Linked DNA regions of Homo sapiens. The protein of the gene in region 1 interacts with the protein of each later gene in a pairwise test. Each region holds a gene or a part of one and is shown on either strand. Other genes may lie near its edges. The genes, in order: EIF2B1, C1orf50 and EPM2A.

Region 1 (3,654 bases):
ACCATGTTGGCCAGGCTGGTCTCGAACTCCTGACCTCAGATGATCTACCTGCCTCAGCCTCCCAAAGTGCTGGGATTATAGGCGTGAGCTACTACGCCCGGCCTTATGTTACATATATTTTAACTAAAAAAAGCTTTCATGAAGCTTTTCTAAATTAAATAATGGAGAGAGAGATTGTAATAAATTGAGGTCAAATGTGCTCAATTAAAATGAAAACAAATGACAGGCCGGCCACAGTGGCTCATGCCTGTAATCCTAGCACTTTGGGAAGTGGAAAGATTGCTTCAGGCTAGGAGTTCAAGACTGCAGTAAGCTATGATCACTGTACTACACTACAGCCTGGGCAACAGAGTGAATGTGTCTCTATTTTAAAATATATATAATATTTATATATAAATACACGTATTTTATACATACATACTTTATATGTAAATATATAAATAATATTTTAAAAATATTTGTGTATATATATTATGTGTGTGTATATATATGCATAAATAAAACATACATATACACATAAATAAAGCAAAAACCAGACAAACCCCAATTCCAATTCAAGCCAATTTTGTATAAATATAAATTACACTTTTTTTTTTTTTTTTTTTACTGAGACAGGGTCTCACCATCGCCCAGGCTGGAATGCAGTAGTGTGATCATAACTTACTGCAACCTCAAATTCCTGGGCTCACGTGATACTCCTGCCTCAGCTTCCTGGGCAGCTGGAACTACAGGCAAGCACCACCACGCCCAGCTAATTTTTCTAATTTTTTGTAGAGACAGGGTTTCACTATGTTGCCCAGGCTGGTCTTGAACTCAAGGCCTCAAGTGATCCTCCCACCCTGGCCTCTCAAATTGCTAGGATTACAGGTATAAGGCATCACACCTGACCAAATTACATTGTCTTCATTTATGTAGATCAATCTAAAAAAGATTTGACTGAAACTGGACTGCCCATTGCTATGACTTACGGGAAATGGGCAACAACTCAATACCATGATGAAGTCCTGAAGTGAAGCAGGATTAGAAGGAACCATAATCAACACTGCTGTGGTGTCCTAGGTCAGCAAGACACCTCCAAGTCTTGAGCAGGGAACTGGGGAGAACTGATGCTCTTACCTTGTTAATAATTCCTCCGTTTTCAACAACTCCTTCAGCACCAACTATGACAAGATCTGCTTTCTCCATGATGTAGCTAAGGGGAAAAAAAGCTTTTCATGCTTTATTTTCTTGGCTCTAACGAGTAGCATCATCATCTGCAAAGATCAATATTCCATTTCTATCAAGGTAAGTTCCTCCCATAACTACCTGTTTTTTTTAAAGCGCACTTAACACGCGATAGACCCCTGGCATTGTTACCAGGGGTGTTTTCTGGTCATGACCCTACAATGAGACATACACTTCACACTGCCGCCCGGCGCATGCACACGTACATATGTGTGTAAGTGAAGCAAGAATGTCCTGACACAGCAGTCTTCCTTCCAAGTGTGGTATCCTCTACTTTCTTTTCTACTTCAGCACAAACCAAACAAAATTTTAAAATCTGATGAGATCTGAAGTTGGACAAAAGTGTTATGCAGTTTTAAAAATCTTTCTTTTTTTTTTTGAGACCAGATCTCACTCTGTTGCCCAGGCTAGAGTGCAGTGGCATGATCTCAGCCCAAACCTCTACCTCTTAGGCTCAAGCGATCCTCCCATTTCAGCCTCCCAGGTAGCTGGGACCACAGCATATGCCACCATGCCCTAGAGATGGGGTTTCGCCATATTGCCCAGGCTGGTCTCCAACTCCTGAACTCTAGCGATCCACCTGCCTCAGGTATGAGCCACTGTGCCCAACCTTAAGAATCTTTCTGGTAGGATGAAGGCCAATTTAGTCTTTAAAATGAGCAATTAGTAGAATTCCTCAAAATCCTTACTTTTGAACACATTCCTAATTTCCTTAATCATCTATCTTGTTTTCATTCCAAGAGATCACTACTCTTGTTTTTTCTTGGGAAATACACTGACAATCCCAGGAACATGTGACTTGGCTTTGCGACACAAGCTGCATCTTCTAGGTGAGACAAAGCATCCCAGTATGCCACTGAGGACAGCCAGGTCTTCACAGAAATACAGAGCCCTGATTACCCTCTGCTGATCCCAACTGACCTTTGTACTTTGCTCTTAAAATGCATTTGCACTGGCTGGGCGTGGTGGCTCACGCCTGTAATCCCAGCACTTTGGGAGGCCAAGGCGGGCAGATCACCTGAGTTCAGGAGTTCGAGACCAGCCTGGCCAACATGGTGAAACCCCATCTCTACTAAAAATATAAAAGAATTAACGTGGCATGGTGGCATGCGCCGGTAATCCCAGCTACTTAGGAGGCTGAGGCAGGAGAATCGCTTGAACCTGGGAGGTGGAGATTGCAGTGAACCAAGATCATGCCATTGCACTCCAGCCTGGGCAACAGGGCAAGACTCCATCTCAAAAAAACAAAAAACAAACAAACAAAAACAACAACAACAACAAACTCAACACTTACAGCCATAAAGCTATAGACACAACTCCCACTCTCCCCAACATCCTACAGCTCTGTCTTCTTTGTATGCTATCACAACCTCATAACAAGCTTGCTGGTTTAGGGCAGCTATTAATTAAGAAGTAGGACGCTACCTGGTGTGGCTTTATGAACGGGACTCAAACTTTCAATCTGAAAACTTGCTGTAAGCCAGCATGGGGTGGGGGAGGTGATTATGGCTGGGGAAGATGGGCACTCACCCGACAGCAGCATCTAGCACCACAGTGACAGGGACGTTGAGGTGGCAGAGGGCTTTGGCCATTTTCTTACTGAAGATGACATTTTGAGAACGTTAGAGAAAGTACAAGACAGTACCACAGTGATGTATGTCACCTAATGTGGACAGTGGATGTTTGCTTGAAACTCACATTAATACTAATGGGTTAAGGGGCAGATCCCAATACTTTGGACTAAGGAAACAAGAATTTGAGTTCTTTAGAAAGAAGTATTTTTGGAAAACTATACTCTTAGACTCTGGGTAAGAGATGTAAATTCAGGAAAAAAGGAGGAAGTTTTGCTTTGATTATCGTCTAGAGAGAGGGAGATATAAGTTACCTATTCCTTGATAAAAATCTTCATCAATACAATCTCTGCTCTTCCACGGAGTTAACTACTTAAGTGAAACCCCTAGATCATATACTGCGGCCTGCTGCAAATTCAGTGATTTTTCTTCCAAAGGCAGGAAAAGGTACAATGAAAGGCAGTGCTGACTGCTGGCAAGCTGGGGGCACATTCTGGTTCTGATCCTGTTGGACTGTAATCCGCAGTTTGCTCTGTAAAATTATGGCTGGGCACATAACTGAACAGAAAGGTACTTGCCCTGACAAATCAGGCTGTGACTCTGTGACGTATACACTAAATCGCTTCTTGGCCGCCACGGCTGCTTCCAGGACTCTCAGGACCACTCTGGAGTAGGCGTGAGTCAATATTGTCTGTGGACCGAGAAAGCTTTGTCAAAGGGGCAGGCTCCTTGCTGCTCACTCACACCCTCTGCACTGCGGCACGTGTTCCCGACACCCTAAGCATCTCTGTACACTTTCTCACAAATCAACCACAACCAGAAAGGAGACCTGATGGTACAGTTTCCATCCCATGTGCAA
Region 2 (3,654 bases), on another chromosome or scaffold:
TGGCGTGCGCCTGTAATCTCAGCTACTGAGGAGGCTGAGGCAGGAGAATCACTTGAACCAGGAGGCGGAGGTTGCGGTAAGCTGAGATTGAGCCACTGTACTCAGGCCTGGCAATACAGCGAGACTCTGTCTCAAAAAAAAAGAAAGGAAAGAAAAGAAATTCTGCTAACAATTTAAGTGAGCTTGGAAGCAGATCCTTCCCCACTCAGGCCTTCAGATAAGAACAGCCCTGACCAATAACTTGATTTCAGCCTTCCAGGGTTTCAGAGAAACTGTGAAGCAGAGGACTCAATGAAATGGTGCCTGAACTCCTAACCTGTAAGCTCTGAAATAAATAGGTGTTGCTTTAAACCATTAAGTTTGCAGTAATTTGTTTATCTGTAACTAATAAAGCACCTATTCAAAATGTGTCATCATCATGCAGGTCAGAACCTTCTGAAAACCTGGGAAACTTTCTGTAGTCAGAATCCACTACTCTACCACTAATGTCTCTTCCATCCGGCTCTGCAGCACCTGAGCAAAAGACCTCTGCAGCTGAGTCCAAAGAGCATTCCCATGTGAACCGAGCAACCAAGTATCATCGGAGTGAGTTTGTTAGATTCTAGCCCCATCCTGTGCTAGGCCTTAGGTAGACCTCTTACAGCTCACAAGAAATGCAGTTTATGAGGAAAGACCATGAATCGGGGGGCGGCCCGGGGAGGGTATTACCAAACAGATCAGCATCAGGAACATCATTCCCAGAGAGAAATTTGGCCAATTGTCAGTTCAAGTACACATCTCTCCCTCCTTTTACAGCATATTGCAATAGATTATAGCCATGCGAAATAATCCATAAACTTAGCTAATTCCACCAAACAGATAGGAAAGAAGGTAGAGTCCTACAAGAGCCTAGTCAGAATAAGAACTACAGTAATTTTGCCAAAACCCTGTTAAGTTCTTGAATAATTCTGGTCAAAATGGATTTCAATCTGAGTTAACTCACAGTCAACAATTTGGCTGTTTTTCTTGCTTCTCACTCTACTGCCTTACTCTCTTCCACAGTGTTAAGTAGCCATTTAAATGGGTTTGTTCTGCTGCAGGTGGCTGAGCCTGGGATTTCCAACTTGGGAGACTACACAGTGGACTCTATAATGATTAGTGGCAGCATCCAATGTCTCTTCCAAGTCTAAAATTTGTGAGTTTCAAAGTTGACTCTCCCCAAACCTGGCCTTTGCTGCCTCAGATTCTGTCACTCTAGCAAGGCAGAGAGAGCAAAAGGGGCAAGACAAACCTCATCAACAGCACAGAAATCCCAGAATCACACACTCTCTGGTCCAGCCAAGCCAAGTGTTTTTTTTTTTGTTGTTGTTGTTGTTTTTTAAATCACCCTCCATTACTCAACATTCTCGTTCCCAGATGAATTTTAAACTGGAGTTGCACCAACTGTGAGACAGCCTCAACCCCAATGTTAAATACTACCAGTTATATATATATATATATATATATAAAAGACTGAAAACAGTTCTCTCTGGAAAACGATCCACCAACCTTTTTATGGGAAGAAGGTCTTCTCTAACACTTTAACTTAAGGGAAGAAGTGATGGAGAGGAAGAAGGAAAGTACACTGGCCAATACTCTGAAACTGACTGACTTGGGTATCTGTGGTCCAAAGAGGATCCCGAAAGACAGTGACTCTGTCTCAATGATTATTCCCATCCCAATTAAAAGTCATAATGACAGCATTTACATTCACACAGGGTCTCTTTCCAAGAAGTTTGTGAGTCACCTACATGTCTTCAATTCTCAAGGCAACAGTGGGGGCAACAAGGAGGTTGACAGCCAGGTCCTGTGAGAGCTGTTTGTCAAAGCCCACTCTCAGTGAGTCAGTCCCTGGAAGTTGGGTTCAGTGCACGGAGGCAGGGCCACTGACTGGCTTAGCAACGTGTCCATCATGCTGATTTTAGCATCTTGCTTCTCAATGTCCTCATACGGAGTCCAGGACAAGTCATGCTGTAGTTTGTAGGCACCAAGGAAGTCATGTGGACAACTTGTCCCCCATTCCTAGAGAAGGCAAAGGAGGCAGTTCCCATCAGCGTGGGTTGTAAACAAACTGAGCTCATTTCCTAATCATGCCACAATCTCTTTTTTGGCTTTTCACTTCATACTAGTCAGAACAACCTTTGGAACGCAGTTACCTTACACATCAGATCCCTCCCTTAATGAAGAAAATGAGTGAAATAATTTAAGCACAGGTATATTTTTTAGAGTCATGTCTGGGCTCACATCACCCCCAATTTTCTAAGAAACCATATACCAATCCACATGTCTACATTTTCACACATATACCAAGAATTTCTCAGAGGCTGGAGTAGATTTTTGGGCAAACAATGTATGTTCTTACCTTTGGAGAAATGATGGAAAAATACTGCTGACCACTCTCCCGTTTATAGAGATAGTAAATGTTGCCAGGTTTTTTCACTATATTACAAGCTACATGGTGCAGGTTGGCATCTCTGTGAGCATCTTCCAGTACCTATGAATCACAGATATGTAACAAATTAGGTATTGGAGATAACAGGCACCCACATTTGGTGATCATCCCAATTAAAATTTGGAAACCATTCAGTGCTTAGGATCTTGCTCCCCCATAGCAATGAATCACTTCTGAGATCCAGATTATTCTGAAGAAACAAAAATTAGACTATGCTGCTATGCTGTAAAAATGCCTTTAGAAAAATTATATTTCAAGCCAGGCACAGTGATTCATGCCTGTAATCCTAGCACTTTGGAAGGCCATGGCAGGTGGATCACTTGAGTTCAGGAGACCAGCTTGGGCAACATGGCAAAACCCTGTCTCTACTAAAAATACAAAAAATTAGCCAGGTGTGGTGGCATATGCCTGTACTCCCAACTACTTGGGAGGCTGAGGCTAGAGGATCACTTGAGCCCAGGGGGCAGAGGTTGCAGTGAGCTGAGACTACACCACTGCAGTCCAGCCTGTGTGATACAGTGATACCCTATCTCAAAAAAAAAGATATTTCAAAATGTTGAGCATTAATGACCCTGGGTAATTTTTAAGCTTCTTTCCTATTTTTCTGTGCTAAGTACATTTCTTTTATAAATGAAAACATAATCCCCTGTTAAATGCTTTACCTCATGAAACCTTCTCCTGGAAAAAACAAAACAAGGGAGGCTGAGGCAGGCAGATCACCTGAGGTCAGGAGTTCAAGACAGGCCTGGCCAACATGGCAAAACCCCATCTCTACTAAAAATACAAAAGTTAGCAGGGTGTGGTGGCGGGCACCTGTAATCCCAGCTACTTGGGAGGCTGAGACAGGAGAATCGCTTGAACCCGGGAGGCAGAGGCTGCAGTGAGCTGAGACCATGCCACTGCACTCCAGCCTGGGCAACAAGAGCAAACCTCTGTCTCAAAAACAAACAAACAGACAAACAAAAACTTATACTTAACCTCTTAAGCTTATTCCTTCTATTTTACTCAACACCTCTACATTTCTAGGAGGTATTAAAGACATAAAAAGTCACAACGATTATAAACAAGTTCAGCCAATCCTGAGAACTAAATAAAGAAAATGAAAGCCTGTCTAACAGTCATTCCTTACCTTCCTGGCTTGTTCTTGCAAATGTTGGATTTGCTCAGCTATGACTGTCAGCTTG
Region 3 (3,654 bases), on another chromosome or scaffold:
TCACATGCACAAAGACACACCATCTTCCTTCCAGGGCCATGGATCAAAGGAAGCAGACACACATCTCTAAAAATATTATTTGCCTATTTCACGATTGCCCAGTATCAACTACACTAGTTGCTATGGTATGAATGTTTTTGTCCCCCCAAAATTTATATGTTGAAATCCTAACACCCAAGGTGTTGGTATTAGAAGCTGGGGCCTTTAGGAGATGATTAGGTCATGAAGAAGAACCCTCACAAATGTGATTAGCTCCCTTATAAAAGAGGGGTGAAAGAAACCCCTTGCTCTGTTCCACCATGTGAGAACACAGCAAGTCGTCGCCATCTATGAACCAGTAAGTGAGCCCTCACCAATCACTGAATCTGGTATGCCTCAATCTTAGACCCCCCAGCCTCCAGAATTGTAAGCAATAAATTTCTATTGTTCATAAGCTAACCAATATATGGTGTTTTGTTTATAGCAGCTCAAATGGTCTTACATACTAGTAAACCTTGATTTCTACAAAAATTATAATTCATACATTATTTTTACTACCTTTTTATCATCCCATTTCAAATCATGCCTCTCTTTATACTACCTAAGTATAATGTACTGTAAGAAAGACATGTAAGCAAACTAAATGCATGAGTGGTTTACAGAAATAAATCACATTTGTTATGAATACAAAAATGTGATTCATTTGTTCTTTTCTCTTTGTTCTGTCTTACAAAATATTTAACCTAAATTTGCTTGGCGTAAGCTCTCAAAAAATCCTTAAATTATTTGATGTTTCTTTGAGATATAACTCCTTCCATCAGACAGAAGGTACAGGATGACTCTCTTAATAAACCATTACTGATCTTCCTAGATCAGTCTCCTCTTTTTTCTCTTAATGGATTTTTTTTCTCGACGACTACAAGGTGCTGCACCACATCTCTATTAACCTTCATTTTTAATAGATAAAAACCAAACTACACTAGCAACCTCACTTCTAGAAACATATCCAACAGAAATATTACTAAGAAAAAAGAATTTCTGATGCACACAGAGATACATGCGTACAGTAATACTATTTTAATAGAAAATACTGTAAACCATATAAGTTTTTTTTCATTCTTCTACAGATATTTATTGAGACAGGTACTGTGCTAGGTCATGTTAAGAACTCAGATATTTATCATAAGAGCAACTAAAAATTTGAAATATTCTAAGCAGGCATGTAACATAACCAGATTTTATTTTAAGGATACCTCTCTGGCTACAGAGTAAAAAAATAATTCAAGAACAATCAGATAGAAGCAGAGAGTCCATTTAAGAAACTACTATATTGGCCTAGGTAGTTTATGATGAAGCTTGGTCACAGACTTTGAAAGGATTATGCAGATTCAAGAGGGAAAGGCCACAGGACTTGGTGATTAATTGGAAAAGGAAGGTGAAGATGAAAGGGGATTAACAATGCCTCTTAAGCTTCTAGTGAAAATAATTCAATATACAGTGGCACTATTCACTGAGATGCAAAATCTGAAAGAGGCTGTAAGGAAAGATCATCTATCTAGTTCTGGCAATGTTGGGTTTGGAGTGCTCTTTAGATATCCAAAAGGAGTCCTCAAAAGAGAGCTGGAGTTACTCATTTGACATTAAGACCAGAAATCTGAACTAAAAAAATAAATATATGAGTAATTTGAGTGTAAATGGTAATTGAAATAGGAACATAGATGAGTCACAAAGAAAAACAATATTAATAAGGAAAAAAGTTCTAGAACAAAGTCTGAAAGTTTTTCAATGTTTAACAGCCAGCGAGAGAAGGATAAACTTACAAAAGATGAATAGAGGAGCTGAAAAGGAAAAGTAGGAGTGACTAAGTGAAGCAGCAGAGCATGACTGAAAGTGTAAACATAGACTACAAACTGGATATGGTTACTTCTAGGAAATGGAATTGGATGGAGGGGAACTGTCATAGTCAACTGTTTTGAATTGATTGGATTAGTTACAAGGAGCGGGTGTTACTTTTTTAGTTAAATAAAACAATATCTGTGGCTCCCATTGGTCAGTATAATTGACTTACAACAATTGAATTATTACCTATTAAAAATATAATTGTTGAAGAGATCAAATATTCATAAATTACAATGGTCAAGAAGAATTATTTATGTGTCATCATCTTCATAAGAATTCTTCATTCCTAGAGTGATTTCTTTAATTACTCATTTTTACACATTTATGTTTTAGGCAACATTTTTAAAAGTCTTTCATGGATAGTAAACTGAGTTATTCAAAATATGTTCTAATAATTAAAATGTCTTTTAGAGGATGGGTTATTGTCTTTTTAATTTCACCTAATGAAATGGCAAAAATGAATAGTAAAATAATTTTGGTTTTGGAGATTTCTGCATGGAGAACTATGGAATAAATGTACTTTTCCCTAGTCCTCCCACTAAGTATAATTTAAAACCCTGAAAATTATAAATAAACAAACATAAGATAACTTTGAAAGACAAAGAGAAGAAGACAGACTATCCAGGGACACTGAGACCTAAGAAAAGACCTAAGTATTGAGTTCCCTGCATTTTCTTTTTGCCTTATATATCCCAGACTTAGATCTGAAGAAGCCAGCAACCTGGTAACACAAGGACAGAAAAAGAAAACATGACAAAAGTCCATTCTCTCTAGCCAAATGAAAAGACAAGCCTAGCCAGACAGAAATCTGTTTGATAATAACTACACTACTCCAGTCAAACCCACTGAAAAAATGTGGCCCCACACCCACTCAGGCCAGCAAAGGCCAAGCATGGGTACACTTCCACTTTTGTTTGCCAAGCTGTATTGCAGTGCCTCAACCCACTCACTATCATGGTGTCAGAGAAGGATGAGTAGGGGTCTGAAACTTTCAGCATCATCGTTGGCAATATAGTGGAGTCCAAGTGGAAAGGTGGACTTCCACCTCCATTTGGCAGTAACGAGGTGCCCCTTCTTTCCACTGAGATCGTGACAAAGGTGACCTAGTGGAAAGTCAAGATTTCCACCTCCTTCCCACCCGACCATCAGTGGATGCCATGTAGGAAGCAGTAACAAGGCATTCCTCCCTGTCTCAGCCAGGGAGCTATCAATGGAGGCCTAATGGAGAGTTAGAACTACCACCCCACTCAGGGAGGAGTCTGTTTGGTTTGGTTATGAATGGAAACAGTGTGAGGAACCTGGGTAATAAGGTGGGACCTCCATTCTTCTGCTGGAGTGGTGTCAGAAGAATTCAGTTAAAATCAAAGGTTTGCATAAGAGCTAACCTCAGGCCGGGCACGGTGGCTCACGCCTGTAATCCCAGCACTTTGGGAGGCCGAGGCGGGTGGATCATGAGGTCAGGAGATCGAGACCATCCTGGCTAACAAGGTGAAACCCCGTCTCTACTAAAAATACAAAAAATTAGCCGGGTGCGGTGGCGGGCGCCTGTAGTCCCAGCTACTCGGGAGGCTGAGGCAGGAGAATGGCGTGAACCCGGGAAGCGGAGCTTGCAGTGAGCCGAGATTGCGCCACTGCAGTCCGCAGTCCGGCCTGGGCGACAGAGCGAGACTCCGTCTCAAAAGAAAAAAAAAAAAAAAAAAAAAAGAGCTAACCTCATTACATAATACCCAAAATGTCTAGGTTTCAATAGAATGTTACCCATTATACCAATAACCA

The links.
Region 2: the proteins of EIF2B1 (region 1) and C1orf50 interact in binary tests that used the Homo sapiens proteins (3 or more experiments, as listed by UniProt).
Region 3: the proteins of EIF2B1 (region 1) and EPM2A interact in a two-hybrid assay, tested with the Homo sapiens proteins (one study listed by BioGRID).

The regions. Positions count from the first base shown.
Region 1 is NC_000012.12:123,623,671-123,627,324, forward strand, and holds part of EIF2B1 (translation initiation factor eIF2B subunit alpha), read right to left. Parts: intron 3,487-3,654; coding exon 3,374-3,486; intron 2,824-3,373; coding exon 2,755-2,823; intron 1,193-2,754; coding exon 1,117-1,192; intron 1-1,116.
Region 2 is NC_000001.11:42,773,595-42,777,248, reverse strand, and holds part of C1orf50 (uncharacterized protein C1orf50), read right to left. Parts: coding exon 3,600-3,654; intron 2,513-3,599; coding exon 2,381-2,512; intron 2,041-2,380; coding exon 1,855-2,040; 3' UTR 1-1,854.
Region 3 is NC_000006.12:145,686,962-145,690,615, forward strand, and holds part of EPM2A (laforin), read right to left. Parts: intron 1-3,654. UniProt on the Homo sapiens protein: Plays an important role in preventing glycogen hyperphosphorylation and the formation of insoluble aggregates, via its activity as glycogen phosphatase, and by promoting the ubiquitination of proteins involved in glycogen metabolism via its interaction with the E3 ubiquitin ligase NHLRC1/malin.